Linked DNA regions of Homo sapiens: all the other regions are linked to region 2. Evidence: fine-mapped expression QTL. A gene starts in region 2. Each other region holds a variant in brackets. All regions are shown on one strand. Distances are between the middles of the regions. Region 1 has its middle 6.4 kb from the start of MIR3150BHG. Region 2 holds the start of PLEKHF2 (pleckstrin homology and FYVE domain containing 2). Region 3 holds the start of LINC01298 (long intergenic non-protein coding RNA 1298). Region 4 overlaps LOC124901982 (a long non-coding RNA gene).

Evidence for each region. PIP is the estimated chance that this variant, and not a neighbour inherited with it, causes the effect.
Region 1: its variant is fine-mapped to the expression of PLEKHF2 in monocytes after Pam3CSK4 (Quach 2016, PIP 0.95).
Region 3: its variant is fine-mapped to the expression of PLEKHF2 in whole blood (INTERVAL, PIP above 0.99).
Region 4: its variant is fine-mapped to the expression of PLEKHF2 in whole blood (TOPMed, PIP above 0.99).

The regions. Positions count from the first base shown.
Region 1 is chr8:95,075,527-95,083,635 of GRCh38, reverse strand. It overlaps a transcript of NDUFAF6 not described here. Among named protein-coding and RNA genes, the nearest start is that of MIR3150BHG, 6.4 kb to the right of the region's middle. The variant C/T (reference allele first, on the strand shown) is at 3,818.
Region 2 is chr8:95,128,687-95,136,788 of GRCh38, reverse strand. It overlaps PLEKHF2 (pleckstrin homology and FYVE domain containing 2), which reads right to left and starts at 3,004. Exons shown (of 2, transcript NM_024613.4): 1 at 2,759-3,004. RefSeq lists silencers at 2,443-2,602, 2,623-3,262.
Region 3 is chr8:95,208,291-95,216,399 of GRCh38, reverse strand. It overlaps LINC01298 (long intergenic non-protein coding RNA 1298), which reads left to right and starts at 26. Exons shown (of 3, transcript NR_046232.1): 1 at 26-82; 2 at 7,822-7,981. RefSeq lists enhancers at 3,186-3,235, 3,476-3,535. The variant C/T (reference allele first, on the strand shown) is at 3,080.
Region 4 is chr8:95,179,079-95,187,187 of GRCh38, reverse strand. It overlaps LOC124901982 (a long non-coding RNA gene), which reads right to left. Exons shown (of 2, transcript XR_007061015.1): 2 at 1-5,176. Among named protein-coding and RNA genes, the nearest start is that of LINC01298, 33 kb to the left of the region's middle. RefSeq lists an enhancer at 5,756-5,855. The variant A/C (reference allele first, on the strand shown) is at 4,679.

The DNA of each region.
Region 1 (8,109 bases), 53 kb after region 2:
TTTTGATGGCTATTTTTAAATTAAATTGACTTTCTTTTTAATCCTGCTTATTTTATCCGTTTAAAGTCATTATCTGAGAAAGGGTTCAAAGGTTTTAATAAAGGGAACCATAGCACAGTAAAGCTTAAGAACTGCTGTTCTAGATGAGTAGGCATGTGAAAAGTGCTAAAATTAACATTCAAGAATAATGTGAAAAAGTCTTAGGAAGTATTAAACACATTTAAAGAGCTCAAGAATTAAACAGATGCGGTCCTGATACAAAAATAACTAGATGGATAACTTATAATGATAGCTAGACTGATAAATGCTACAGAATAGCATTCAAAGCTGATCAGGTACAAATAAGAATGTAATGGATGATAAAGACAGAGCCCGTTTAGTGGAGAAAGGAAGAATTATCTACTACATGAAGCTGGGAAAATAGGCTGGCTGTTAGGGATCAAAAAAATTTTAGCATCACCTTACACAATTTACCAAAATTAATTCCATTTAGATTGAAAAGTTAAATGTAAAAACAAAGACAGATAAAACCCTGAAAGAATTCTAAGGAATATGGGTCAAGTGCAGTGGCTCACACCTGTAATCCCAGCACTTTGGGAGGCTGAGACGGGAGGACTGCTAGAGGCCAGGAGCTCGAGACCAGCCTGGGCAATACATACAGACTCTGTCTCTACAAAAAAACAAACAAACAACTCACGTCTGTAATCCCAGCACTTTGGGAGGCCGAGGCGGGGGATCACGAGGTCAGGAGATCGAAACCATCCCGGCTAAAACGGTGAAACCCCGTCTCTACTAAAAAATACAAAAAATTAGCCGGGCGTAGTGGCGGGCGCCTGTAGTCCCAGCTACTTGGGAGGCTGAGGCAGGAGAATGGCGTGAACCCGGGAGGCGGAGCTTGCAGTGAGCCGAGATCCCGCCACTGCACTCCAGCCTGGGCGACAGAGCGAGACTCCGTCTCAAAAAACAAAACAAAACAAAACAAAACAAACAAACAAACAAACAAAAAGAATGCTAAGGAACACATGAACATATGAAAGCTCCTCCCACCCCCGCCCCTACCACAGGAGAGAGATTATTTCATAAAACAGGAAATCCAAACTATTTTCATAAATTCTAGGTATCTGTTTGGAAATCATACAGTGTATTAAGTACCTTCGAGTGATTCTGAACAGAAGGAGATGATTCTGACAGTATGAGAATACAGCTGGGCACCAGGGCCTCTCTATTTACTCCTCACACCCTCCCATCCCAACAGCAGCAGCACAGCACCCACCCCATTTCCTACCATTGCTGCACTATTAGTTTTTCTTTTTTATTTTTTTAATGAGACAGGGTCTCGTCATGTTGCCCAGGCTGGACTCAAACTCCTGGGCTCAAGTGATCCTCCTGCCTCGGCCTCCCAAAGTGCTGGGATTACAGGCATAAGCCACCGCACCCAGCCTAATTCTTTTCTGGTTTCCACCATATGCCTCTTATTCCTCTTACTTCAGTTATTTCTACTAGCTTCAGCTTTGTTTCTCTCTTTTTCAGATTTTAACAACAGGAGTTTTTTTTTTTTTGTTGTTTTTTTTTGAGACGGAGTCTCACTCTGTCACCCAGGCTGGAGTGCAGTGGCGCGATCTCGGCTCACTGCAAGCTCCGCCTCCCGAGTTCACGCCATTCTCCCGCTTCAGCCTCCCATAGCTGGGATTACAGGTGCCCGCCACCACGCCCGGCTAATTTTATTTTTGGATTTTTTAGTACAGATGGGGTTTCACCGTGTTAGCCAGGATGGTCTTGATCTCCTGACCTCATGATCCGCTCGCCTCGGCCTCCCAAAGTGCTGGGATTACAGGCGTGAGCCACCACGCCCGGCCCAACAGGAGTTCTTAAACTAAGATGCATGGATAAAATTCAGGGGTTCTGTGATCTTGGATGGGAAAAACATTATGCTTTTCTTTTTACTAGACTCTCACTGAAATGTAGTATTTTCATTTCTCTCTTCCCTTGATTAATTTCTTTGTATTTGTGCTCTTGAGTATTATCGGAGTCCGTGGGTCATTAAATGTTTTCCTCTACCATCATCCTTCATCATTAAGGCCACCAATCAGCGTATCAGGATAGCTGAGTAAGCTGACAAAGAAGGTGGGCTGGGACCTAGATCTTTAGAATGAGGAATGCAAGACTAGCCAGGCGCGGTGGCTCAGGCCTGTAATCCCAGTACTTCGGGAGGCAGAGGTGGGCAGATCACCTGAGGTCAGGACTTAGGGACCAGCCTGGCCAACATAGCGAAACCCCATCTCTGCTAAGACTACAAAAATTAGTTGGGCATGGTAGTGCACTGTAGTCCCAACGGCTCCAGAGGCTGAGAGGCTGAGGCAGGAGAATTGCTTGAACTTGGGAGGCAGAGGTTATAGTGAGCTGAGATCGCACCACTGCACTCCAGCCTGGGCAACAGAGAAAGACTCCACCTCAAAAAAAAAAAAAAAAAAAAAAAAAAAAAAAAAAAAAAAGATGCAGGACTCAGGACTCCATGTAAACTCCCAAAGGGCGGAACCTGTGCTGACTTTTGTTCACTCTTTTGTTCCCAGAGCCTAAGACAGTGCAGCCATCAACATGCAGGCTCAGTATTTGTAGAAAGGATACATGAAGAAGCTGGAAGATCAGCACTCTGTCCTTGAGTACGAGGCTAGGTGGGCTAACATGGGGTGAGAGCACAGTGGGTGAACTGAGACATATTGGCCCAAGGGTCCAGCATCAAATCCTGGGATAACACAGCTTGGCCCAAAGCTAAGGCTCCGATTGCTGTGCTCAAACAGCTTGCTCCAAGAAAAGAAAATAAGTCATTTGGCCGGGCACAGTGGCTCATGCCTGTAATCTCAGCACTTTGGGAGGCCAAAGTGGGAGGATTGCTTAAGCCCAGGAGTTTGAGACCAGCGGGCAACATGATGAAACCCCATCACTACAAAAAATACACTACAAAAATACACTACAAAAATACACTACCAAAAATCACTACAAAAATACACTACAAAAATACACTACCAAAATACACTACCGAAAATCACTACAAAAATACACTACCAAAATACACTAGAAAAAATCACTACAAAAATACACTACCAAAATACACTACAAAAATACACTACCAAAAATCACTACCAAAAATCACTACAAAAATACACTACAAAAATACACTACAAAAATCACTACAAAAATACACTACAAAAATACACTACAAAAATCACTACAAAAATACACTACCAAAAATCACTACAAAAAATACACTACAAAAATACACTACCAAAAATCACTACAAAAAATACACTACAAAAATACACTACCAAAAAATCACTACAAAAAATACACTACAAAAATACACTACAAAAAATCACTACAAAAAATACACTACAAAAAATCACTACAAAAAATACACTACAAAAATACACTACAAAAAATCACTACAAAAAATACGCTACAAAAATACACTACAAAAAATCACTACAAAAAATACACTACAAAAATACACTACAAAAAAATCACTACAAAAAATACACTACAAAAAATCACTACAAAAAATACGCTACAAAAATACACTACAAAAAATCACTACAAAAAATACGCTACAAAAATACACTACAAAAAATCACTACAAAAAATACACTACAAAAATACACTACAAAAAATCACTACAAAAAATACACTACAAAAATACACTACCAAAAATCACTACAAAAAATACACTACAAAAATACACTACAAAAAATCACTACAAAAAATACAAAATTTAGCCAGGCGTGGTGGTGGGTACCTACTTGGAAAGCTGAGGTGGGAGGAT[C/T]AAGTGAGCCTGGGAGACGGAGGTTGCAATGGGCCGAGATTGCAGCACTGTACTCCAGCCTAGGCGACAAAGCAAGACCCTGTCTCAAAAAAAAAAAAAGTCTAAAAAAATTAAAATGAAGTTATTTCTTCTTCCTTCAAGAATCAGTTTTTATTTTCCTCTATTAAGAGTTTGGTCCTATAGTTTAATTGTTGTCAATAAATTTCCTCCTTCTCTCATCCAGTTTTCTCACTGAATCTTCTTTAGTTCAATGGTTTTCAAACTTTCATCTTTAGAGACTTAGTGATTCCACAAACCTTTGAATGGAATGTCATGGGTACTGAAACTAAAAGAAAACCAAAATCATGGAGCTCTCTGATCAAAGCAACCTCACTTATCTCAGTGATGTACTTAAAAATAAAGACCTGCTATTCTTGGGCATTTACAAAGTAGATTTAGTCTAATAAGATATCCTTAATGTTTTTTATGTATTGCAAATTTTACAAAATATTTTATTTTAAAAAGAATTTATTGCCCCAAACTGGAAGCAATCAAGATGTCCTTCAATAGGGCCAGGTACAGTGGTTCACGGTGGCTCCCAGCACTTTGGGAGGCTGAGGTGGGCGGATCACTTGAGGTTGGGAGTTTGAGACCAGCCTGACCAACATGGAGAAATCCCGTCTCTACTAAAAATACAAAAATTAGCCGGCCATGGTGGCACATGCCTGTAATTCCAGATGCTCGGGAGACTGAGACAGAATTTCTTAAACAGAGGAGATGGAGGTTGCAGTGAGCCAAGATCACACCACTGCAGTCCAGCCTGGTGGATAGAGCAAGACTCCCTCTCAAAAACAAAAACAAAAAAAAAGATGTCCTTCAATAGGTGAGTAGACAAACTGTGGTGCATCCATACAATGGATGCCTGCGTGCATTATTCATCAATAAAAAAGAATGGGCTATCAAGCCACACAAAAACATGGACAAATCTGAACTGCACACTGCAAAGTGAAAGAAACCAGGTTGAGAAGCCTGCAAACTGTATGATTCCATTTATATGACATTCGAAATGATGCAAAACTAGAGAAACAGTAAGCAGATCAGTGATTGCCAGAGGTTCTGGGGAAGAGGGGAAGGCTTGAATAGGTGGAGTACAGGGGATATATATATATATATATATTTTTTTTTTTTTTAACAGAGAAAGGGGCTCACTGTGTCACCCAGGCTGGAATGCAGTGGCACAATCACAGCTCCCTGCAGCCTCAAACTCCTGGGATCAAGCAATCCTCCCCACTGAGCCTCCGGAGTAGCTGGGACTACAGGTGAGTGTGATCATGCCGGGCTAATTTTCTTTTTCTTTTTGTAGAGACAGGGTCTCATTGTGTTGCCCAGGCTGATCTTGAACTTCTGGGCTCAAGCGATCCTCCTGCCCTGGCCTCACAAAGTGCTGGGATCACAAGCATGAGCCACTGCGCCCAGCCTGGGATTTTTTTAAAGGCAGTGAAACTATTCTGCATGATTCTGTGGTGGTGGATACATGACATTATGCATTTGCCAAAACCACAGAAGTTCTCCACACTAAGTTCTCCACACTCAATGCATGCAAGCATATCAGCTGCAGAGCCATGCCTCAGGGGACCGACCCCAGCCAGAACCCTCTGAAACTCTCTCCACTCCAGTGGCCCCATGATGCCTGTGGCCTCCATCTCCACCTTTGATTCTCTCCATGGGCTCCTTTGTCCCAGGCTCACTGTTTAGCCTCTTCTCTGCCTCCTGGGTCTGCTTTATGAGTGGCCTCATATCTGTGGTCCCGTGGCTGCTGTTCACTACCTTCCTTCCGCGGCTCTCAGCTTCTTTTCCTGCTGCTGGCTCCATCTACCAAGGCAGATGTGATTGACTTGGCTGGTCCCTCACCATGAGCTCCATCTCGGGGGGCTGGCCATGCACCTAGACTGGCTTGCCTTTGGCTCATGTAGAAGCAGGATGATGAGATCCACAGCAAGCCCACCCATGCCTAAGAGCTTGCTTCTGGTCACCCTTGCACCCTTGGAGGGACAGGCACTTCTCATGACCTTTACAACCCAGAATAACATCCCCCTGGGAAATGTCCTAACACTACTCCTCGTCTCCCACAACTGAGAGTTCTATGCTTCTCCTGTCATGGTAGAGTAGTGCCCTCTTGTCCAAGGTTTTGCTTTCTGCAGTGTCAGTTACCCATGGTCACCTGCATCTGAAAGTACTAAATGGAAAATCACAGACATAAAGACTTTGTAAGTTTTAAATTGCATGCTGTTCTGAGTTCTGAAATCTGCCATTCGCTCTGTCCTACCTGGGACATGAATCATCCTTTCGTCCAGCATCTCCACGTTGTAGACGTTCCTATCCCTTAGTCACTTAGTTAGTGACTTAGTCATCTCAGTTACCGGATAGAAAAAATATAGTATATATAGGGTTTGGAACTATCCAAGGTTTCAGGCATCCATTGGAAGTCTCGGAACATATTCCCCATGGAGAAGGGGGAATGACTGTGCTTACAAGGCTGTGTTGTTCTTGCTTCTTTTCTTATTTGTCTCCCTCTCCAGACTGTAAGCCCCTTGTATTCATTTACTAAGGCTGCCATAAAAACATGCCACAGGCTGGGTAGTCTAAACAGAAATTTATTCCTCACAGTTGTGGAAGGTAGAAGTCCAAGATCAAGGTATCCCCAGGGTTGATTTTTTCGAAGGCCTCCCTCCTTGGCTTATAGATGGCCATCTTCGCCAGGTGTCTTCACATGTGTGCACGTCTCTGGCTTCATCTCCTCTTCTTATGACATCAGTTATAGTGGATTAGGGCCCACTCATATGATTTCACCTTAATCACTTCTTTAAAGGCCCTGTCTCCACATACGGTCACACTGTGAGGTACTGAGGGTTAGGACCTCAACAAAGGCAAAAACCAGGTGCTATGAATTTTTTTTTTTTTTTTTTGAGACGGAGTTTCGCTCTTGTTGCCCAGGCTGGAGTGCAATGGCACGATCTCGGCTCACCACAAACCCTGCCTCCCGGGTTCAAGCAATTCTCCTGCCTCAGCCTCCCAAGTAGCTGGGATTAGAGGCATGGGCCATCACACATGGCTAATTTTGTATTTTTAGTAGAGACGGGGTTTCTCCATGTTGGTCAGTCTGGTCTCGAACTCCCGACCTCAGGTGATCCACCTGCCTCAGCCTCCCAAAGTGCTGGGACTACAGGCATGAGCCACCGTGCCCGGCCTATGAGTCATTTTATACTCAGCATTCAGGGCCATAACTGGCACACAGTGAGCACTCAATTTTTTAAAAGGAAGAAAAAGACGAAGAGAAAGAACACAGGCAAGAGGGACAGTTCAGGGCAGCTTACACCAAGGTGTGGAAAAGGAGTGAGCAGGACTCATGTAAAGGAAATACAGAGACTGGCACGACCAGGGCAAAGTGTTCATTCTGGAGTGGGAAATGATGTTGATGGCTAAGGTCAGGCCCAATTCTTGAAGCCCTGAGTGCCTGGGTGAGGTGTTTGGAATTTACCCTGTGAGTACCACAGCTGCCCTGAGAGGTCAGGAGCAGAGGAGGAACTTGAGGTAAATTGTATGTGAATATTAGTGAAAAATCTAGCATTGGAGAGCTTCTGCCTAGAGATACGCAATTTTTATTAATAATTCCAGAAAATTGTGAATTGTGTGAGGAAGGAGGGAACTGCCTCTTTCTGGTCAAAGGTTGATTTTTCTAATGATGTCACATTAAGTAAAAAGACCATTGAGACCTCATGTAAAAATTGAGCCCTTTTATGATATAACCAGGGCAATTTCTAGGAGAGGTGAGTCACCACTCTTTAGAGATTTCAAAGCCCCGGAGTCCACCCCACCAGCCTTCTGGGAGATTCCAGCAAAGTGGCTCTCCTTTCCTGATTTTGATTTTGTGTAGTTGCCCAGTCTGGCTCACACTAACATCGACCTGTGTTTGTCAAAGATTCTCCTCTGGTAATTCAAAATAGCGCAAGGAGAAGTGTGTGCGTGTTCGAGTGAAGCAAGATTGGCCTAGAGCTAGTTAAGCAAGAAGGTTTCCAAGCTCAAGTACCTGGAGAAGTGCGCATGCCTAGAACCAGAGTCCTTCAAATCTCTCTCCCAGTTGGCTTCATTTTCCCAGGCTGGCTGGCTGTGCAAGACACACGCCCTGAGTGTCTGCATCCTTAATTTCCTGCAGAGAGGAAAGAGGACACTTATTCACCAAGCCAACTAGAAAATTCTAGGGAAACATTCCCATGCCCCGAGAGATGCTTATGGTTGGCCTGGGGAGGATAAAA
Region 2 (8,102 bases):
ATATTAAGCAGGCAGCTCATGTACAAAGCTGGTTCATCAAAGATAAACAACAACAAAAAAATTTTTCATATACTTTCTATTAAGCAGGGCATTCTAAAAATTCTAAGACAATTCCGGCAAAACAATAATTGATAGAGCTATAATGAGATTTGTTCCAAGAGCTTAAATGTATAAATATGACCTTTAAATTTTTCAAGCATTAACAATATTTCCATCAAGTTCAAATACATTCAATCACACTTAAAATTATGATTATAATCCTTTTGATGATCCATGGCTTCTCTCTCATACATCAGTAATTATACTTTAATCCATTATCTACTTAGAAATTTCATAAATATTCAAGTTCTGTACCCCCAGGCGAAAATTCACTCAGGTACTAAGTTAAATTCTCAACAAAACAACAACAAAACATGTGTGTGTGTGTGTGTGTGTGTGTGTGTGTGTGTGTGTGTATATATAATAAAAACCAATCTGTGGATTTAATGGAGTTGATGGCATGTATTGGGAAAAAGACTACAAAGAAGATTTAACTATGATGCTCATGGAATTTACAATTTCAAAAGAAATTCATGAAGCATATTTACAAGGAACAAACATACGTGTACTCATCCATTCAAACCTTTCCTGAGCATCTGCTATGTTCTTGGCATGCAGGGAATGAAGAGGCAAATCAGACCCGATGTGTTGCCTGCTGTCAAGGAGATGTCATGACAGAATCTATGCGATATTTACAGTAATACCATGGGAGAAATTAATTGATTTCTGGAGAGGGCAAGGGAGTGGAATGAGAGAACAGAGCAGAAAAGGCTTCAAAGAGTATAGGCTTAAGTATTTTTAAGGAAAAAATTTCATCACAAGGATCACCTGTAAATCAGCTCGCTGGGAAATAAGTATTTATACTGAAGAACTAAATTCAAGTCAGAGCAGTGATAAGAGCAAACGAGATGGACAGATTGCTCCAGAAGACTGAGTTATGTATCCTACAAAGTTATGCTACAGGAAAAATGAAAAGGCTTCAGAGTCATAAGATCTCAGTTAAATACCAGTTTGGCTGCTACATTTGTGAAATTAGTTAATTTCATTTCTAAATAAAAAATGTTATAATGCCATTTACTTGACAATGAAGCAAAACTAAAAGAATTTTTAAGAACAACAGAAATTGGCAATACAGCCTGAGCAACATGGCAAAACCTTCTCTCCACAAAATTCAAACAAAAATTAGCCAGGTGTGGTGATGCGCTCCTGTAGTCCTAACTACTCAGGAGGCCGAGGTGGATCACCTGGGCCCCGGGAGTTTGAGGCTGCAGTGAGCGGAGATGACACCACTGCACTCCAGCCTGGGCGACAGACAGAGACCCTGTCTAGGAAAAGGAAAAGGAAGGAAGGAAAAAGAGAAAAAAGGAAAAAGAAATTGACAATCAAATATGAGCAGAAGCTGTATTTTTAGATCTAAAAAGTAAAATTCTCCAAGAATTTGGGGTTTTAGGGCTTACTGTATTTGTGTTTAAGAGCCTTTTCAGTTCATTTAACAGAATTTTAAAGCAAGATGTCTTTATTTAAAAATCATTTAGATTCATTTACTGAGGCTGAATATTTTCTTCTGAAGCTTAGTCACTATACTAGTTTTATTTAGAGGCCGATTACGTGTGCTTTCCAAATAAATAGCTTAATACCATTCATTCCCCGTGTGGTCGGGACCCAAAGAGATTATAATGAAGCCTTCGTTAATACTGAATTAACGTGAAGACCCCACGAGCTGCCAGAGTATTTAAAAAAAGTAAATGCTCAAAACGCGGTAGGCATTCACCCTTAAGAAACTAAAGGGAGGGGAAAAAAACTTCAAACTGTCAAGATCACTTCTTATTCTTAAGAGAACACATGCCTTTAAGACTCTCAAAGTTTCTGTCTAAATCTTTCTTTAATGAGTCTCTTCAGCAACGTACTACACAACACGACAAAGAAGGCATTTATCAACAACGCGTTTTGTGAGTCTATGAATTACCGAGGAGGGCTTAGGTGTCTGTAACCTTCATACCCACTTCCACCGCACACTCAAGTTATTGCTGGAATGTACGGAGAGCACACAAGGCTATTCAAGCAACACCGGCAGCGCGCTCTCGGCCTTCAATCACATTTTTAAAAAGAAAAATAAATTCGTCAAAGGATCATAAAACTTGAAAAGGCTCCAAATAAATAAACCATCGCTTCTATCAGAGCAAGTTCTGCGGGGCCATTTTCGTCTCCCAAGTGACATACAAATATGTAGTTCAGGTCATAAGGTCCCCGACACGCAGACCCTGCAAACTTTTCGGCCAGAAATTTGTCGCGACCCTGAGACGCCCCCGGCCGTGTCCAGGACCCCCGTCCTCAGGCCCCACAACTTCTCGCCCGGCCTCGGGGCTCCTTCCCGCGTCCGCCGGCCCCCGCCCCGCAGACCCGTGGACCGGACCCTACCCGGCGGCCCCCGTCCCCCCGCGGCGGCGGCGGCGTCCTACGGGCGGGCGCGGCTCGCTCCCGGGCTGGCGGGACGGCGGCGGCAACTGGCCCGCGGGCCGGCCCCGGCGCGAGGGGAGCGGCCGGGAGCGCCCCGTTTCTCACAGACCCCAACATGGCGTCGGCCGCCACCGCCCGCGACGACGACACCTCCCGGCGCTGCGACGGCTCCGGGACCGCGGGAGGAAGCGCCCGGAAAGTTTCGCGTCTCCCCTCCCGGCCCGTCAGGAGCCGGCGGACCACCCACCCGGGCTTCACCTACCCCGACGGCCGCGGGCGGCGGCGGCGGCGACAGCGAAGGCGAAGGTCCGATCCTCCTGGTCGCGGACGCAGGGCGCGGACTCTGCCCGTTCCCCGCCGGGGCCTTCCAGGGTGTGTGCTGTCCGCAGCCCCGCGCAGCCGGCGCGATCCAGACGCGGTGGGCGGGCTGGCCGCCAGCGCAGCCGCTCGCAGGTGACTCCCCCGCCCCTCCAGTCGAACCCGACAACGGCTGCCTGGGCTGGCCTCTCCCCTGCGCGCGCACGGGCGCGCCCCCGTCCACACTCCGGGCGCGAGCGCGCGGGCACGAGCACACCCACACCCCTCGCTCCCCGCCCTTTCTTGCCAGTTCCCTCGCCCCGCCCCTCGCGCCCCTCGCGACGCGCTCTAGGGGCGGGGCCTTTGGCGGAGGCCACACCCACTCAGGCCGGCCGCGGGCGGAGCTTGTCCATGTGTGAGGTCGGGACGCGCTCCCGCGACGCGTTGAGGTGCACGTGAGGCGCCTTACCTGACTTTCCTGACTCCGACCAGCCCTTAGAAAGTATTGCTCAACTGTCTACGAAGTTCTTAGGGAGACTGGAATAATAGAAGGAAGACACCTCCCCACCCACAACAGGCCTCCCCGGGGAACTGAAGAACGAGAAAGGCAGGCTTTGGATCTAAATGCCCAAAGGCATCGGTACTGGCATTTGCTGCTCCCATTTAGCACAGCAATCCTTTCCGTCACACTTTCCCTTTGCTTTACCTAAAATCCCTCCTCTTGAAACCAAGGGAACTGCGGCGACACACACATACCCTACGTGCTCCACCCAGCCCTTTCTTTTAAATGCATACTTTAGAATTCTGGTCTTCCCAAAACTTTGACGACACAAAACCCCATCAGCCTACTTCACATACCTAGAAACTGTAATTATTGCATAGTATATAAGGTTAAATGTGCCCTAATTGATCTGATAGCTAAGCGCTCTGATGGGTTCGTAGAGAGGTAACGAAGTTGCTTAGGGTAGACTAGGGATGGGGGCGAAGTAGGGAGAACAGCATACTTATTTTAAACAAAGTGTGTGTGGTGTGTAGGAGGAAATTGGGTTTTGGTAAATTTTATATTTCTTATTCATCTATTACTTCAGTAAGTTGTTTTAACCTGTGTTTGATTGCTGTTGAATTAGAGTCACTACCAGCCAAGCTGCACGTGGATGAGCACCTAGGGATGAGAGCAGACTTGGGTTCCGCCCTGCTCTTCCACCTGGGATCTTCCTCCTCCAGGCTTGTTGCCTCCTATCCTCCCCTATTTCAATAGAGTTTGTCTCTGAAACAAACAAGTCTTTTTTTAAATTAATAATTAGAACAAAATTGGCAAAGATGAACTTTTTTTAAATGGGGAAAATTGTATGATCACACACACACAATCTTTCGTGTGTTAGAGTTGTCTCTAGATGAGTACAGATGTCACCAGGACGCTTGTCCGTACCATCACTCTACCTCATTCACCTCTACGTGCACAGCAATATCTATCAGTGGGGAAAAGGCAGGACTAAATAATGCCTAAAATCCTTTTAAATTTTGAAAGTAGGAATTGCTATGTCTGACTGGTTGTCTAAGGTCAAGCCTAGAGCATTAGTTATCAAATATTTTTGGTCACTCACATTAGTAAAAATGTTTGCCCTCCTCACTTCCCATGTACTTATTTAGCTTAAGTAAAGTGCATAGATAGAAGCCAGAATGACTGTAATCAAACATTGGCTTTGTCTCTAACAACCTTGGCACATCCAAAGATAACTTTGGTTTTTTCACTTGTAAAATGGAGATAATAAAAGTATATCACAGAGTCATTATGCAGATGAAATGAATTAATATATGTAAAGCATATACCTGGCACACAGTGCTTTACAAGTGTGAAATAAAATTATTACATACATAATATACACATTTATATAGTGCTACGTAAGTGTGAAATAAAAGTTGTTACATATGTAATATACCCAGCTACTCAGGAGGCTGAGGCTGGAGGATCACTTGAGGCCAGGAGTTTGAATCCAGCCTGGGCAGCATAGCAAGACCCAGTCACACATACACACAGAATTATATGTATGATATATATAGTGTGTATTTATATACACACATACACCTATTATAATATACCTAGTATGTTAGGTACATTAAAAAACAACATACACACACAAAAAAATCAGAAATAATGATTTTAAATATATATATGTATGTTTTCTTTCTGTACTCTTCATAGTCTATGCCCTCCCTGGGCTGCGTGCACCCCAGTTTGGAGACCGTTGATTTAGATCTGTGCTAACAAATACAGTAGCCACTAACCACATGTCTTAATTAAATGTAAATTTATTTAAATTAAAAATTTAGTTTCTCAGTCACACTGACCACATTTCAAGTGCTTAATAGCCACATGACTATTGGACAGTGCACATATAAAACATTTCCATCATTGCAGAAGTTCTATTGGATAGCACTGACCAATCTGGAACAAAGCAGGGAACTCAAAAGTCACTGAAAGGAAGTAAGATTCACTCCTACCCGAACCTGTAATTGTGGTACCCTGTTCAAGTCAAGTGATAAGACAGCTCTTTGAGCCTCACATCTCAACCGTAAAATGAAGATAAAAATAGGAATTACTGGCCAGACACGTGGCTCACGCCCAGCCCCATCCTCCCACCCGCCCAATTTTTTTTTTTTTTTTTTGAGACAAGAGTCTCACTCTGTGGCCCAGACTGGAATATAGTGGCGTGATCTTGGCTCACTGCAACCTCCACCTCCCAGGTTCAAGTGATTCTTCTGCCTCAGCCTCCCAAGTAGCTGGGATTACAGGCATGTGCCATCATGCCTGGATATGTTTTGTATTTTCTTTTTAGTAGAGACGAGTTTTCACCATGTTAGCCAGGCTGGTCTCAAACTCCTGACCTCAAGTGATCCACCTGCTTCAGCCTCCCAAGGTGTTGGGATTACAGGTGTAAACCACCACACCCGGCCTATAATCCCAGCACTTTGGGAGGTCGAGACAGGAGGATTGCTTGAAGCCAGGAGTTCAAGACCAGCCTGGGGAACATAGTGAGACTGTGTCTCTACAAAACAATTTTTAAATTAGCTGGGCACTTGGAGTCCCATCTCCTCAGGAGGCTGATGTGGAAGGATTCCTTGAGCCCAGGAGGTCAAGGCTGCAGTGCAGTGCAGTGAACAATGATCCAGCCACTGCACTCCAGCCTGAATGATGGAAGGAGACCCTTTCTCTTAAAAAAAAAAAAAAAAAGAAAGAAAAAAAAAGGAACTTCCTCATAAACTGCTGAATGGAGGAAATAAGATAATGTGTAAAGTGTATGACACATTGTTAAAACATAGAGGAACTTGAAAAGATTAGTAAAACTTGAGTTTATATTTCCCCAATTTGTTTTTTTAATTTTTTACATTTGAAAATAAGAGATTGGGTCTTGCTTTGCTGCCCATGCTGGATTCAAACTCCTGGGCTCAAGGGATCCTCCCTCTCAGCCTCTTCAGTAACTGGGATTACAGGCATGCACCACCAAGACTGACTAACCCGATTCTTTAATCCTGAAAGGCAAAAAAGATCACGTTATTGTTCTTGAATCTAACGTGTATCTTGTAAAAGTGAATAGTTTGGTTAAGTTTTAATTGAAAATAGAACATTCAAGAAATGATAGGATGGCAAATACCTGGATTTTAATTACTCCTTGATTTCTTTGTCCCCTCCACTTTTAAAGGCTGGTCTTCTCCCAGTTTTGCCCATCTCAGTAAAACGGCACTGCCATCCACAAACCTGATGAGCCATCATCCTGTCATCCTTTTTCCCATGTCCTCCATCCAATCTCTTTATCTCCAAAATATTGTAGGATCTACCTTCAAAACACTTTATCTCATCTGTTCTCCTCTCCTCCTGGCCCCTCCACACAGGAGCCACACAGGATTGTGTCACTCCCTGAAGAAACATTTCCATGGCTCCCCACAGAGGCTGCCATATAGAATTGTACAGTTGTGGTAGAACAACCCTATGGGAGAGTGCATTCACATTGGAGGCACTGGAAATTTAATATTTATTATGAATATTTTCTGGCAGATTTTAGTGAAATGACTCATTCTAACAAAATTATCTTACAACAATTTTCCAACAAGATGGAAATCTAATTTGCCCAGACATGCCACATAGAATAAGAGCGTTTCTCTTTCACTTAGTACGAAATACCAGCTCATCACCTGGTTCTACAAGACCCAGCACAATCCAGCCCCTGCCATCCCCTCCAACTTAAAATGATGCTACACTCCACCAACTGCCATTCACATTGACCTTCCATCATTTCCTAAAATAAATCAAGCTCAAAAGAGCTGCTGTGGCGCTCACTGCCCTGGACACCTCTCTACCTGGATAGTCACAACTCCACAGTCTCTGCCCTTCACATAGCTGCGGCTCCTTGTCATGTTTCAGTCCTCTGAGAGGCCTTTCCTGGACACTATGTCCTCAGTTACTCTCAGTCACAGCCCTTTGCTTGTTTCCCTCACAGAACTTACAGGTCTCCCTGGAGTCTGAAACCTGCATGAGGCCAGGGACCTCATTGTCCTCTCCTTTCTACCCATAGGCCCCAACAGGAGCATGTGCCAGCTTGTCAGTTGTCAACTCGGCATGATTGCCACCCCCTTCTACATTCTCTTCTGTACCTATAGGGAGACAGCCTAGCACTCTATTTTCCAGAGAACTTACTCTAAATGTTTCCAGGTTAAATTCTGCCAGTGGAGACACATGTATAAGGATTGAAAGGCAGAAGAAAAGCAGAACCCGTCATTCTCCAGTTGCTATGTTCTGAATGTTTGTGTCCCTCTAAAATTCATGTGCTGAAATATAATCACCAATGGGTTGGTTTTAAGAGGTGGGCCTTTGGGATGTGATTAGTTCATAAAGATAGAGCTCTTGTGAATGGGATTAGTGCCCTTAGAGAAGAGACCTGAGAGAGCCTGTGTGCCCTTCCACCACATGAGAACACAGTGAGAAATGTGCCATCTGTAAGGAACAGGCCTTCAGCAGACACCATTTGTTCTGGTTCATTGATCTTGGATTTCCCAGCCTCCAGAACTGTGAGCAATACATTTCTATTGTTTATAAATTACCCAGTCTAAGACATTTTGTTATAGCAGCCCAAATGGACTAAGATACCAGTATAAATTTGAACATGCAGCTCAAATCCTAAGGGGCTATTTTCCTGAACTTCTGGGAAAATATTAGGTACAAAAAACACAAAAAGGCAGGCATGCTGGCTCACACCTATAATCCTACCACTTTGGGAGGCCAAGGCAGGGAGACTGTTTGAGCTCAGGAGTTC
Region 3 (8,109 bases), 80 kb before region 2:
CTAGGCTTAAAGTACATGTGGAAGGGCGAGCCTCCCAGGATTCTCAAACAGAAGCAGCCTGCCAGGCTGAGCCATCCAGAAGGTGAGAGCTCCACGTGGGGACTGCTGGCTTTCAGTCAGGGGCCTCCACTCTCAACTGAGTCTCCCGTTCCCCCCGTCTGTCCATGGGACCCCTCCTCATCCTTTGTTTTTATTTAGCGTTAAAGTTCCTCTGAGCACTGTGTTGGCTCTCAACTTCTACAATTTTAGCCAGTTCTTTTTTCCTGCCATCATCGAGGTAGTTTTCAGAAGTGTGAGGGTGTGTGCACACTTACATGAACACATACACAGACCGACAAAGACTGTGCTTTGCAATCTCCAAACACAACTAGCAGGCTCCACACCATAAGTGACACTTCCCTCCTAGATAGAGGTGGTGTTGCCACAAGGAATTGTGGATAACAGGGGAGACAGCCTTGGCTGGTCAGGGTGGCGCCAAAACCTCTCTCAACCACAGAAGGTTAAACCCACTTTAAACCAGTGCTTCCTTAACTGCTGAAAAGTTAAGAAGTACCTGATTAAAAATGTAAATTCCAAGAACCCATCTCCAACACCAAAAGCAGAATTTCCCAGAGAGGCCAGGCCGTGTCTTCAAGTGCCCCCAGGTGATTCTTACCAGAGGAAAGCTTTCTCTTTTTCAAAAAACTCAGACACCCCCCACTAGAGATTCCTCTGTTTTCACAGATGGGAGGGAAGGATGGGGAAGGCATAAGACTGGGGAGGGGCCACTAGACTGATGTTTTCCAAACACTTCCCAGAAGGGGTCTGATGTGCAGGAGAGCTTCAGCTGGGCTTTGTAATAATGATTTCTGTGAAGTTTTCTTTCTTCTGAATAAGGTTTTCATCATCATACCTTTTTGAAAAAGCTCTGAGTTATCAAATGCTGTACTATGCACCGATGAGGCATTTCATGCACATGCTGGCATTCAGTCCTCTCAACACTTTTTGTTGGTTCTATTGGTGTCCCCATTTTCCAGATGAGGAAATCAAGACAGGTTAAATCGTTTGCTTCAGGCCACTTGGCTGAGAAGCAGCAAACCTATTTCCAACAAATCCCAGGCCAGCCGCTGAGTGCCACATTGCTGTGCTCAGCCTGCCCGCGAGGGCCCATGGGGACAGGGTTGTTCTGAGAGCTATGGGGCGCTATTGGTCATATCCCAAGGCCAGTTCCCCAGGAGAAAATGGGGATCCTTCCAAAAGTGTGCACAGCTGCTTTGTACTGGCATGGTGGGCTGTGTTGGAAACACCTTTAGGCCAGTAATTCTTAGCTGATGATACATCAGCATCATCTGGGATCTTATTAAAAATGCAGATATCTAGGTCCTAGCCACAGAGATTCAAACTCAGTCTGTCTGGGAGGCAGTTCGGGAATCCACTTTTGTATAATTATAGCCAGTGATTCTGAGGCAAGCAATTGGAGGGGACTGCGCCGAAGAAAAGAAAGAGGAAGTCCTGAGTGAGGAAACCGCCCCCCGCCATCAGGATAAGCACCCCTCTTTGAGGGCAGGGGAGGCTGCATCCTGTATGATATTTTGTCCTTTTCCCCATATCCGGATAGTTTTGCTTCTCCTTTAAGAGAAGCATGTGACACCTCCCATGTCACACTTGCTCTGTGCCATCCTTCTCCATGGCTTCAGGAAGCATTCACCTCAGGAATTCCATAGACCTTTAAATCCAGGCTGTCCCTGGATTTAAAGGCAAAATCCAGGCACTGGTGCGTTTTCTTTAACCTATTGGCTCAAACGGTAGTTTTCTCTGCCTAAATCTCTGTGGGTAACTTATTCACCTCGAGGTGAATAAGTTACAAGTCCTATGCTGCTGTCTGCTGAGCTGCAGCTGGACAGCCCAAAAGCTGGAGAAAGCCCAGCTGCTGAGCTGAGGCTGGGTGGCCTGAGCAGATGTCCAGAGACTGGCAGGCACTGTTCATGCTCCAGAGGTGATATGGCCATGCCCCACACCCACACAGGCCAAGGCTCCAGGCCCCTTGAGAACAGTGGCCCTGCCAGACCCTTTTCTGAGCTGCCTGAGCCAAGTCCAGTGTTAGGGACCTGGTGAGCACTAAATCACAGCATGGAGTGTGACAGCTCCAGTCATGTGGCAGCAGCTGCCAGAGGGCTCTGTGGGCAGGATCAAGGGTGGTGCCGGGTTCCCCAGAAGGGATACTGAGGGTGATTATTGGCATCCTCCTTAGGTGTAGGAGGCACTTGCCTGCCACATGTTTGCCAGCTGTGTTCATTCCCTGGGGCTGCGGCAACAAATTACCACAAACTTGGTGGTTTCCAACCACAGAAATTTATTCTGTCATGGTTCTGGAAGCCAGAAGTCCAAAATTAGCATCACTGAGCCGAAATCAAGGTGTTAGCAGGGCCACACTCCCTCCAAAGCCTCTAGGGGAGAAGATTCCTTGCCTTTTCCAGCTCCTGGGAACCCTAGGCATTCCTAGATTCGTGGCTGTATCACCCCAATCTCTGTCCCCATTTTCCCATGGCCATCTTCCCCATGTGTCACAGTTCCCTCTTCTTTCTCTTATAAAGGCAGTAGATTCAGGCTGGGTGCGGTGGCTCATGTCTGTAATCCCAGCACTTTGGGAGGCTGAGGTGGGCAGATCCCTTGAGCCCAGGAGTTTGAGACCAGCCTGGGCAACATGGTGAAACCCCAACTCTACACAAAATACAAAAATTAGCCAGGCCTGGTGGTGCACACCTGTAGTCCCAGCTGCTCGGGAGGCTAAGGCGGGAGGATCTCTTGAGCTCAGGAGGTGGAGGCTGTGGTGAGCTGAGATGGTGCCACAGCCTGGGCAACAGAGAGACCCTGGATTTAGAACCACCCTAAATCCTAGATGATTTCATCTCGAGATTCTTAACTACATCTGCAGAAGTAGCTCATATTCACAGGTACTGGGACATATTTGGTGGGGGCGGGGGGGGACACAATTCAACCCACTGTGCCAGCCTTGCACTAAATCAACATCAGTGGTTAAGTACTTCCTCTCCCCAACCCCTTCCGCATGCAAATCTTTCAACACCTAATGCCAGTACAC[C/T]TCTGCTTTCACCATGGATGGGCCTGCCTTGGTGTCAGTTTTGCCTCATTGCAGGCCTCCTCTCCAGCCATGAGGACAGCAGGGGATGTGGAGGGCCAAGAGGGACAGAAATCCTCCTGCACCAAAAGGATGATAAAATGAGCACCAAACCAGCTCACCGAGCTGAGTATGCCCAGGGTTGTGCCAGAGTCAGAACCCAGTGCATGCACGGGAGCCAAGGCCATGGTCAGGTGCCCTTGCCCCACCGACTCATGTAGTCCCCTGTGAGCAGCATGTGCTACCAGCAGCTATGCCTCTCCTGCTCAAAGGGCACCCACATCACAAAAGGCAGTTGTGGTATAGACCAGGCTGCAAAGGCCTGCCCTTCAATCCCCCTCCACCATCTTCTGTGCAACCTGGCCTGCTACCACTCATTTCACTTCTCTGAACCTCACTGTAAAATCAGCCTAGTGATAATACCTACAGGCTTAAATCCTTTCTCCAGCCAAGCATCAATAAGTAAATGCATTCTTCCTCACAGCTTTATGGAGCAGGCTAAATAAGTGAGTGTGAAAGCTCCAGGCCCACAGTAGCCATTGCATCAACTTCTTATGTGGAATAAAAAGCATCTGACAACACCGCAGGTGTGTCATTCAGTATTCACTGGCTTTGGACACACTCCTTATCTTTAACCTGCACCTGCACACTGGAAACTCCAAAATCTTTATCTTCCTCCTGCATATCTGACTGCCTGGCCCACCTCCACAGTCAAGCACCTCATCCCCCACCCCTCACCTGCTCCTTCCCCTGTCAGCTGGTTCTAAAGGAGTAACACTGCCAGTCCAAACACCTCACTGTCCCATCACCTTCTCCTTCTCCTTTACCCCCAAATCAGTCACCAAGTGCTATTGATTCTTCTTCCTTAATATTCCTCCAACCTCTTTCCACCTCCTTATGTCCACCTTGTCTTCACATGTTTAAGGCCACATCATTTCTCACCTGACATATTGCAACAGCTTCCCTTCTTAGTCCAGTCCCTAACTTATGTTGACAAGACTGACATTTCTAAGATATGGATCTGATCATCTGCCAGGATGGTATAGAGCCTGTGGGCAAAAGCCCAAATTCCTCAGCAGGGCTGCAAGGCCCCTGTGACTAGCCCAGCCTATCCCTCCAGCTGAATCCCCCCTCCTCCCCCTAAACCACAGCCACACTGAGCCCCACCCTCTCTCATTTCTGCATGACTTTGCTAAGCTGTTGCCTTTGCCTAGAACATTGTTTTATCCATTCCTCATGATTAATGTTATTGACCCTTATTCAACCTCCAAGACTTAGCTCCTTCAGAAGGCCTTCCTCGCCTTCTCTCTCCAGGCTATTATAGCATCTTTTTCTGTGCTTCACACAACATTTACCAAATTATGTCATAAATGCCTATTACTTATCTGTCTGCCTCACAAGCCACATATTCGCATCCCCTGCCCCAGACTGTGAGCTCTTGGAAGTTAGGGACTGTGTCTCTTCTCTCTATATTCCCACCAAGCACCTGGCCCAGTATCTGTCAATAGCCAGTGCCTTGATAAATGTTTGTTTAGTCTTGAATGCCAAGGACAAAGCAACAGGATGTCGCAAGATATAGAGCCTGTGGTTGATTTTTATTTAAAAATACCATGTTATACCATGAACAAAATGTGAGCAACATCCTCAATAATGTTTTGTTGGAACATACCAAAGTGTTCTTCGTGTGGCCATCTCTTCCAAGAGCTTAACATGAAACTCAACATGGTGAAGGGCTTCTGCTAGGAGACTGGGCTAATGTAGTCCTTCATAGAACTTTCTGGGATCAGCATCAATACATACAAGAATCATTGCTTAAAAAAAGTAGTCAAATAGCATACCCTTAGGAAGCCAAGATTTTGATAGGATCTAGATCACTATCAGCTCAAGGTTAAATTTCCTGAGTAGGGCTCAGAGAACATACATCCTGTGTGGTTGGTTAAAGAAGAATCAAGTGTTTGGGATAGCAGGTGTACAGGTGGCATGGTTACATTCTATTTGGAAGGCTGAGCAGCCTGTTAAAGAGATGAGGCCTGCCCTATCTCCACCTGTATGTAGGTCACAACCTCCTTTACAGAAACCCTACACTTCAGTTATGCTGGATATTCACTTTCTCTAAATACATCTTGCACTTTTCCTTACCTCTGACATTTTCTGGAAGGCACCTGAATGCCCTCTCATTCTAATTTTTACTTAGCAAGGCTCTATTTATATGCCAAGGTCCAACTCATTGTGATAGAGTCATGGAGATAATAATCCCTGTTATCTGTTTCGTCCACATTAAATTTTTGGCTGGGCACTTGGCCACCTGGCTATTGACTACATTTCCCCATCTCCTTTGTAATTAGATGTGGCTAAATGACCAAGTTCTGGCCAACAGGATATGTGAGCCACTTCTGGGTCTGGGCCCTAAAGCACCTGTTGTATATTCCTCCATCCTCTCCGCCCAGCCCATAAGCTGGAACACTAATGTGGCAATGACCAAGTTTTAGCCGTAGAGATGAGGCCAACACCCTGTGGAACACCGGAGCAAAGTAACAAGATAGAGCAGAACTGAGTCCCCGAATGACCTTGTGGAGCTGAGCTATCCCAGCAGCCTCAACTGCCACCTACATCCGCACCGTCACAGGAGAGAGAAATACAATTATATTTTAAGATTGATCTTATATAAATCACTGTGTTTTTGGGGTCTCTGCACTTTAACTTAGTTATTTAGACATCATTTCCTCTGGGAAGCTTCCCTAAGAGCTCTGTCTGAAGTCCCGACGTGCGTGTTTGGTGCTAATGCTCTCACCACACTCCACATGGTATCACAGTGACCTCCGTGCATGTTAGTGTGTCCCTAGTGAACTATAAGATTCCTGAGGGCAAAGGCCACACCAGTTTCATTTTTCATATCCCCCAGAGTAATCAGCACAGTGTCCTGTGCATGGAAGTCATATTTGTTGAAGAAATAAGAGAATAAACAGTACTTGCCACTCAAATATTCTTTTCAGAGGTGAAACAAAGATAGCAGCAGCAAAGTCAATACACACCATAGTTAAACAGAAACAAGAGAGAAAGCAGCTGGCAAATAAGAGGTCCAGTGTGCTGAACTGGGGGTGCTAATTCTCCAAAAATAAATGTATTGTGGCAACAAAGCCTGAGGAGACTTAGGGGAAAACACAGATGGTTACTGCAGCCCTGGATCAGAGCCTTCCCTCCACTCAGTGACCCTGTGTCCCTCAGAAGACCCAGGTGGAGGTGGCCACGTGCTCTCAGCACCTGGACTATCACTTCTGCAGACTGGACAACCATGCTGTGGGCACTTGTCCATAGAGCCAGACCTGGAAATACAGTTTCTCAGAGGTACCCGGAGAGGGGCACCAACTGTGTTCTCCCAGGCCATCCCAGAAAAGTGGAAGAAGAGAGCATTTCACAGACCATCAGGAAAACACTCAACCATAAGGGTGTAGGGCCTGGGGCCAGACTGTCGGGTTTGAAACCCAGCTCTGCCGCTTATCAGCTGAGCAAACTTGGATGAGTGACTTCACCTCTCTAAACCTCCATTTCCTCACAGAGATGATAATATTGCCTAGTAGTGAGGTTGTTGCAGGATTGAATTTATACATTAAGGCACGCTTTGTTCCCAAAATGGGTATTTTGAGTACAAAATGGGTATTTTTTACTCAAAATACCCATTTTGGGTAACGCTTTGTGCAATAGAGCAAACAAAATACCAATTTTCCAGGTTTTAAAGAAAGAACCCGAGGCTCAAAAAGATTACATGATTCGCCAGAGGTCCCGGTCAGAGATCAGGCCCCAGGCTCTCCCTCTAAACCGTATGCTATTGGGGAGCTCTGCAGCCTTTACCTGGGTGCTCTCATCCTGGGTCCTGGCCTCAGGAGGGAGCAGCCCCAGGAGGCTGAGAGCCGAGGGTGCTGTAATGCCCCTCTCCTGTTTCAGTGGTTTCTCAGGAATTGAGGGTGAGGAGCCCGATCTCTGCGGGCACCACCTACCTATCGCCCATCCCCAGCAGGCCCCAAGGAGCTGAAACTTCTGTCAGCCTGGGTCTGGGCCAACAGGATGGGACAGGGGGGCACCAGGAAGATGCCTGTATATTTGCTGATAAAAACGGATGAAAATATGTGAGGGGACTTGAAAGGCACGGATGACATTGTGAGCACGTGTTAAAAGAAGGGATGCATGAGGAAGTGTAAAGGAGAACATGGAAAAAGTGCTTGGGCAGGGCCGGAGCACAGGTGCTTCCTGAGGTGTCCTGGCCCTTCAGCTGAGGTAATAGGAATAAAGCCAGGCTCTGTATGAGAGACAGCAAGAGAGAGAGAGAGAGAAAAGCAGAGACACAGATGTGAGTGGTAGACAGAAATAGAGACCCGATGTCAAGGAGACACACAGTGAGAAAAGGAAAGATGGAGGGAGAAGAGAGAAAGAAGGGAAGGGGAAGAGAGGGGCAAGAAGAAAGAGAGAAACAGAGGAGAGAAGAGAGACAGAGAGCCACCTGGCACCCCCAAAGCTGTGGCTGCCTTCACCATGTCTGACTTTCAAAGTGCCATCCCCTTTGCCCCCACAAACAAACAAAAAGAGAACAGCGGCTTCTCTTCCTGAGGAATGTGGTGGAATGTTCTGATCGCTGGGTGCTGACTGGTATCCTCAACCTTGGGTCCTGGCTAAGGACGCCACTCCCCACTTTCCTTTCTCTTCCTGACAAGACCCCCTCCCTCTTCCCTGAGCTCTGTTTCTTCCATGAGGTTGAAGAAAAATGCCGTCGTGGTCCCCTGCCTGCTTACTCAGCGTGTCAAGCAGGAGTTCTCAGCTCCAGTGTGCCATGGAGGGCCTTGGGAAGAGGTCACATACCATTCCCATCCCCAGGTGAGAATCACATAAAAACCAAGGTCCAAGGTCCAAGGTCCAGGCCACACCGCATGCCCACCAAGGGTGGAGAGGCCTGGAAGCTCCTCTGACCCTCAGGGACTCCACCATCTTCCAGGGCCCAGCAG
Region 4 (8,109 bases), 50 kb before region 2:
TTTCTTTGAGCCCACTGCTCTCCACACTGACCATACCTGATAACTGAACCTACCATCACCACCAACCTGGCAGCAAATCGTGGACTACATGGTTTTAATCTGTATTCCTTTCATTATGAGTGAGAATGACTATATTTTCACATACTTATTTCTCATTTGTTTTTTCTTCTATGAACTGCCTCTTTATATCTTTTGATCACTTTTTAATTAAATAACTTGTCCTTGTCAAATTAATTTGTAAATTTCTTTTGTATTATAGAGATATTAACCCAATGTCACATGTATGGTTAACATTTTTTTAGTTTATCATTTGTACTTCAACTTTGTTCATTCCCCTTTTTTTGTGTTTTTTTTTTCTTTTTTTGAGACAGAGTCTTGCTCCGTCACCCAGGCTGGAGTGCAGTGGCACCATCTCGGCTCACTGCAAGCTCCGCCTCCCAGGTTCACACCATTCTCCTGCCTCAGCCTCCTGAGTAGCTGCGACTACAGGCGCCCGCCACCACACCCAGCTAATTTTTTGTATTTTTAGTAGAGATGGGGTTTCACCATGTTAGCCAGGATGGCCTCGATCTCCTGACCTCGTGATCTGCCCGCCTTGGCCTCCCAAAGTGCTGGGATTACAGGCGTGAGCCACCGCGCCCGGCCTGTTCATTACTCTTAATATGCAAAAGGACTTTTAGAAAATGTTACTTATGTGAATCTATAAAATATTTTATAGTTGCTTTTTGGTATCATGACTTACGCACTTTAAGGCTAAAAATAATCACCTATATTTTAGCATTTTATGGTTTCATTTTTCATATTTGAATTTTTTATTATCTTCCATTTATTTTGGTATAAAAATATGAGATAAGGATCCAGCTTTATGGTTTTCCTATTAATAAACAGTTGCTCTGGTTGGGCGCGTGGCTCACGCCTGTAATCCCAGCACTTTGGGAGGCCGAGGCAGGCAGATGGCTTGAGCTCAGGAGTTTGAGACCAGCCTGGGCAACATGGCAAAACCCTGCATCTACAAAAAAGGCAAAAATCAGCCAGGCATGGTGGTGTGCGCCTGTAGTCCCAGCTACTTGGGAGGCAGAGGTGGGAGGATCACTTGAGCCCAGGAGGTTGAGGCTACAGTGAGCCAAGCTTATACCACTGAACTCCAGCACGGAGAGAGACCCTGTTTCAAAAACAAACAAACAAAAAAAGACAATTACTCCAAATATTTGAAATGCCCCCTCTATCAGATACTAAATTCTGATATATATATTTATATGCAAATGTACCCACACATATACATGCATACTCACACACTCACTCACTTGGATCTTTCTGAACTAACTTGCTCGATTGACCTGTCTTTTCCTGTATCAGTATCATACACACTTAGTATAGCTTTGTGTTAATATGTGGTAGTCATTCACTACAATGGCAGGCTTAGAACAAAAAATAATAATAATAATAATATTTACTGGGAGGAGTACCTCCATTTTACTTGCCTTTTCCATAATGGTCCTGGCTATTCTCATGCTGAGTTTTAGAATTCACTTGGAATCCCTTAGGGATTCCTTTTGAGATTACATAGGATTTAGAGATCTGTTGGAGAATGTGCCTCTTTCTGACATTGCATCTTCCCATCCAGTAACAAGATTTGTCTCTCAGTTCATTCTAGTCTTACTTCTCTCAGAACTGGTTCATAAAGATTTGATTTGACTTTGTTTTGCTTTTGACTTTGGTTACATGTATTCCTAGGTGTTTTATTTTATTGCTGCTGATGTGAATGGAATATATTTTTCATTTTACTTTTAAGTGGTTTTGCTGATATATAAGAAACTCTAAGTTTTTATGTATTATTTTAAATATATATTAAATATATGATTTTTAAATATTTGTTCTACATATTTTCATATACTTATATATTTATTTTGTACAGTCTATTGAACTATATTATGTCTAAAATTTTTTAGGATTCTCTTTGTAAGCAATCATATTATCTTCAAGTGAAGATAATTTGGCCTCTTTCTTGTCAGTGTTTAGACATCTTGTTTAATTATCTTGCTCGTTGTGTTGACTAGGATTTTTAGAACAAGAAAATAATGATGACACTCATCTTTTTAGACTTTAATGTGACTATGTTTAATTAAACATAATGCTGACTATTAGTTCGAGATTTTTTTAAATCACAGAAATTTTCATATGACTTTTCAGTATCAAGATAATCATACAGGGTTTTTATATAAGGTTGATTATATTAATAGATTTCCAAACATGTTCTAATCTCTACATTCCTGAAATGAATTTCAACTGGTCATGATACATTTCTTAAACCATATTGCTGGATTCTATTGTCAATATTTTGTTTGATATTTTTCATCAAGGTCTATAAGTGAGATTGAGATATAGGGCTTATGTGTGTGCTCTGTGTGCTATTGTTTCTGTCTTGTGCAATTAAAGTGTGTGCCATGTTTTTTTGTTCAGGAAAATGCTTACACTGTAATGTAGATTTAGTATTTGACTTTATATGCATAGCAAAAAAACAAAGGGCATCATAATAGCAACACTGGTTATCTGAGTGGTGGCATTAAAAGTGTTTTTCCTTCAATTCTATAATATCCGAGTGTTATGTTTATAACAAAATGTTTGAAATACATACCATTAAAAGAGGCTCCATAGAAATATATTAGCAGTTATCACTAGGAAGGGGAAATGAGGCACGATATTGACCTTCTTCATCCTCTTGTAAATCTCTTTAGCTATCAGCACTTCCCCCTTCCTGCCCATCTCCCCGCTCTGCTGAACCCAAAATAAAAGTACATATTACATAAAATATAATTCCTTTTTTAAATGCTACAAACTCAAGTCTTCTTAAATCATAATAAGCCAGTACAAACAGATCCAAATGATTCCCAGATACAATGAACAGGAAATTCTGTGGCTACGGAGTACTAGCAAGATAGAGAAGGCTGTTAGCTCTAAACATTGCATTTTCGAAACTAGAGTCAGGTATAAGCCATGCCTTTGCTCCTATGAAAGCAGACTATTTGTCTAGGGATCTAAGCAAAACTAGGAGGTATTGCTTCTATAGAAAGTGAGCATTTTAGGTTGTGTGGAACAAGAAGGATTTTAAACAGCCTACAGCCACACTGATGCACCTGCAGCTTCATGCCACACACCTGCAGCCTCGCACGATGTAGCTGTGTCCTCACACAATGCACCTGAGACCTTACACAATGCACCTGGGACTTCATGCAATGCACTAGGACATAGATAGTGGCATCTTTTTTCCAAAGTTCCCTAAGCACTTTGACTAAACTTCCTTAAGATGTTTTTTAAAATGTTGACATGAGTCATAAAAAGCAAAACTTTTTCTTTCTTGGGCATATTCCACTTTAACCAAATGATAAAGTTATTCCTCAACCGAAGACAAGGGTAAGGCTTGGACTGGGAGTGCTCTCTGGCTCCTGAAGACATTTCATCAGCCCACCAGAGGGCTGCACTGATGATTAAAGGAGAAAAATTAATCGCTCAGTCCGCAAAAGACTATGTTTTTTCCCATCTCTACAGGACATCAGAGCTTGTCCATTCATTGCTGTTGGGCCAACTACAAAAGGTATAACACAACAATTTTTCTTCCCAAGGACTTCACAGTCTGGGCAAGAGACAGATTTTTAAAAGCAATTCCACTGAGATGAGGACTCACAGAAAGACTCGTACAGGGCATGATGAGAGCGCAGAGGATGGGCCCCTACCCAGCTTCTCCAGGAGCCCCTCCCCAGAGGAGCTGGTGCTCAGGCTGAAAAAACACATGGAGATGGTGAGGCCAGGAAGGCCCAATACAGAGCTCAGAACCCCAGCCCTTGGGGGAACTGTGCCCACTGTATTTCCTCAATTCTAAGATGCTGTGGATTATAAACCACATGGTGGACTTCTCAACCATTTAGCCTTGTACCGGCACAACCCCAAGAATGGGCATCTCCTTCCTTTTGCACCCCAGGTATCTCATTCACCTCTCCTGAGTCCTGTCCTTGTTTAAATTATGCATTTTTAAAGGCTTTATGTTTTAAAGCATTTTAGATTCACAGCAAAATTAAGAGGAAGATACAGAGATTTCCCATCTATTCCCTGCCCCAAACACACACAGCCTTCCCATTATTAACACTCCCCGCTCTGCCCCAGAGTGTTACAGTTGTTACAATTGATGAACCTACATTGACACATCATAATTACCTAGTTTACATTAGGGTTCATTCTTGTTGGTGTACTTTCTACGGGTTTGGGCAAATTTATAACGACATGTATCATCCACCGTTATTGTATCATACAGAGTAGTTTTATGGCTCTAAAAATCCTCTGTACTCAACTGTCAATAGCATACATTTATCAAAACACTAATACATCACTTTCTTCTTTAGTATCATAATCAACATTTAAGTCTTAGCCTGCTTTGTATTCTGCATCTGGAGATCCTTGGGAATAATACTGGATCATCAGTAGCTTTGCAAAACATCCTCGGTGGCACACTGCTTTCCATAACCAGGACTTGTGCCCTTGACCTCTAAAATACTTCAAAATATGAGTTCAAGGCCTGCACAAGAATCCTAAGTTTGCCTGCATTTTCTAGTTCCCCTTGAAGTTTCTTCTTTCTTTAGTGGGATTTCACATTACGGAAATTACATGACTTCTCCTGAAAGTCAAC[A/C]GGAAGTTTTTGACAAACTGTCCATTACTCTAACTTTCTGAATTTTGGAAATTCCGGGATCTGTCCTGAGAGATTTGGCCATCTTTACTGCCATCAGTTCCACTGCCTGGTGTGTGCAAGCCATCTTCTGAAATTTCAATGCTACATCATTGTGTGACCTTTTTGAAGATATTAGGTAATAATTAAGATTCTAAATTTAAGTTAAAATGTAGTCATTCAGGCCAGGCGAGGTGGCTCACACCTGTAATCTCAGCAATTTGGGAGGCTGAGGCAGGTGGATTGCTTGACTTCAGGAGTTTGAGACCAGCCTGGGCAACATGGCAAAACCACATCTCTGAAAAAAGACAAAAATTCACCAGGCACAGTGGTGTGTGCCTGTAGTCCCAGCTACTTGGTAGGCAGAGGCAGGAGGATCACTTGAGTCTGGTAGGTCACGGCTGCAGTGAGGTGAGGTGAGATCATGCCACTGCACTCCAGCCTGGATGACAAAGTAAGACCCTGTCAAAAAAACAAAACAAAACAAAACAAAACAGTCATTCAAGATGCTGTCTAAACAAATAACTCAGTGAGGTGCACATGGGATAAGCAGATAAGCCAAGCCAGGCCAAGGTCACAGGTATACAGAGGCCAAGCTTTATTAAAACACACTTATTCCCTGTTCCCTGCCTGGACAGAAAACAGGACACATCAAAATACTGCCACTGTAGATCCCCAAGCCACAAACAAGCCATCAAGCTGCATCTCTGGCTCCCATTGCAATGCCTTGCTGGGGTTAGATGTTCTTTGTCAGTGGCCCGAGCCAACTTCCCTTTGCAAAGCAGTCACACCATGAAGCTGGCGGTACGAGACACCATGTGACCGGGGGCTTGTTTTATTTCCAAGCTGCCACTATCACGAGATCTGCCACTGTTGAATTGCTTCATCTCCTTCATCCCAACTTCGTGCTTTCATGTGAGTGTCACTGTCCTATCCTCCCCATTGTCTGCCAGAGTGCTGAGGAAGAAATGCTCCCTCCAGCTTTGAAGAGTCATTTCAGAAGGCATAGTCCACGGTTCCCCGAAAGCTGAAGGTGGAGGCATTTATAGACACATCCACTTGGCAGAGGGCCTTTGTTGTGGGCGAGGAGGAAGTGGTAACCCCCGGACGGCTGGGCCCCCTCCATGTGACTCGGCTATCACCTGCCATCAGCCAGTTGGCGGGAATGGGATGCAAACCACCATCCTTTGGGGGAGAAGCCAGGATACAACTTCCCGGCTGCAGCCTTATTTTGGTGTCACACTCCAGAGGCCTCCTGGCCGCAACCATAACCCATGTTATCCCAGCGGCTACACTTGGGTACCTCCCAGCATCGCTGGCGTTTCCCTCTTGCTTGTTTGACCTCTTGGAAATGTTCTTAAATACACTCTTGAACCCCAAGCAAGTCACCGAGTCTTGCTCTCTTTGTTTTTCTTTTATTACATGGCAGGGATATCATTAGTGTTAAAATTCTGAGTTTCTATTTCCTTAGAATCTTTCCTGAGATTCTACATTTCCTTAGAATGACCCAGTTTCAATGGTGGAAGGATGTTCGATATCATCTGATTTCCTAAGGGAAAATTTTCACAGGAAAAAGGCTGAAAACTCTATATAAAATTCTTAGAATTGGCAGCATAAATTTTAATGAGGAAGCAGCGCCTTGTGTAGACAGAACTTTCACCAGGAATAGCAAGGCCCCTGACTCTCAGGCTAACTGTGGGGCCGCGAGCTCTCTGCTCCTGTGTTAACTCAACTCACCCAAAAACTAGGAGGTGAGGCAGCCTAGCAGTCAGGAATGTGGGCTTCGGGGTCAGACCAATATGGGTTTAAGACATGGTTCAACCAGTTATAAACCATGTAAACTTGCATGAGTGACTTGACCTTGTTAAGGCCTTGGTTCCTTCATCTGTAAAGTGAGGACATAAGAATTTGCACAAGTTAGTTAACCCCCTTAAGTCTTCGGTTCCTGCAGATGTAGACTGATTGTACCTAACCTCTCTTTCTCTAGCTCTGTCTCTCTTGACTCTCATATAAACACACTTACGCATCTCCTATCTTAAAAATATAAGAAAGGCATCAGCAAATAAACTCCTCTTTGACCTTTGTCCCTCTCTAGCTACTGTCCCATCTCTCTGCATCCCTTCTGTCTAAACATCTGAGGAGAGGGTAGATACTTCCCATTCCTTTATCAGTTTCATCCAAAGACATTATAGCTTTTCACATTGGACTATTTCTAAAATTGGACTGTGTATCTTTTGCACTGGTAACAACTCCAAATTTCAGTGGCTTAAAACACAATGGCGGATTTCCTGCTCATGCAACATGCCTATCACAGTCCACCAGGATTCTGCTCTGTGTCATTCCCAGAAGATTACCAGTGACTGTGGCAGGAGAACAGAGCACCCTGGAGGGTCTCACAACACCCACTAAATGCTCTGGCCCTGGCCCAGAGTGGCACCTGCCACTATTCACAGCTCTTTGGCCAGAACCAACCAGAATTCCCCTGACCCCACCCAACTGTTAAGTGCAACCCCACAGTGCAGTATTTGGCAAACCACACAAATGGTCTTCAGCTACATTATTATAACAGCAAATAGACTGTAGACAATCAGCTGTGTTATAGCTTCAGTATGCTTTTGTGGGCTAGCTTGGAAACCTGACCACTATTCAAAACAGTGTTCCTATGAGAAAACACGTGCCAAAATCCAAGCTGCTGACTTATAAAACAAGCTGGAACACAATCTGTTAGTAAGTTGAGGCTTCTTATACTTAAGAAATTATTTTTGAAACATGGCCCCAGAATTTGACAGGCTGGATTGAATTATTCAGCCATAGCTATGAGATCCAGAACAAGCTACATAATTTGTGGGGCCCAATGGTGGGGAACCTTGTTCAAAAAGCAGGGGGAAAATGCAGTTAAAGTTACTAAAATATAAAGCTTTTTTCTTTCTCCAAAAGTCTCTCTCTTGATTTATCATAGTGATTTTATTTGCTATTTAGGCTGAGCATGGTGGCTAATGCCTGTAATCCCAACACTTTGGGAGGCCAAGGCAGGAGGATCGCTTCAGCCCAGGAGTTCAAGACCAGCCTGGGCAACATAGCAGGATCCTGTCTCAAATATTTTTTAACAAATAATATGATCAAAAAATTGCTATTTATTGTTGTTCTCAGTAAAGGTAAATTTTTAAATGATTAGAATGAACTGTTCTGTTCATTTTTATATTGTGCAATGCCAGGTTTAAATGCAAAGATAAGAGCATCTTACACACTTCCTATTTCAGAGTTGGTACATGCACATGTAGTTAATTCTTTTTAAGAGACAAGGTCTCACTCTGTTGCTCAGACTGGAGTGCAGTGGCACAATTTTGTCTCACTGCAGTCTCAGACTCCTGGGCTCAAACGATCCTCCTGCCTCA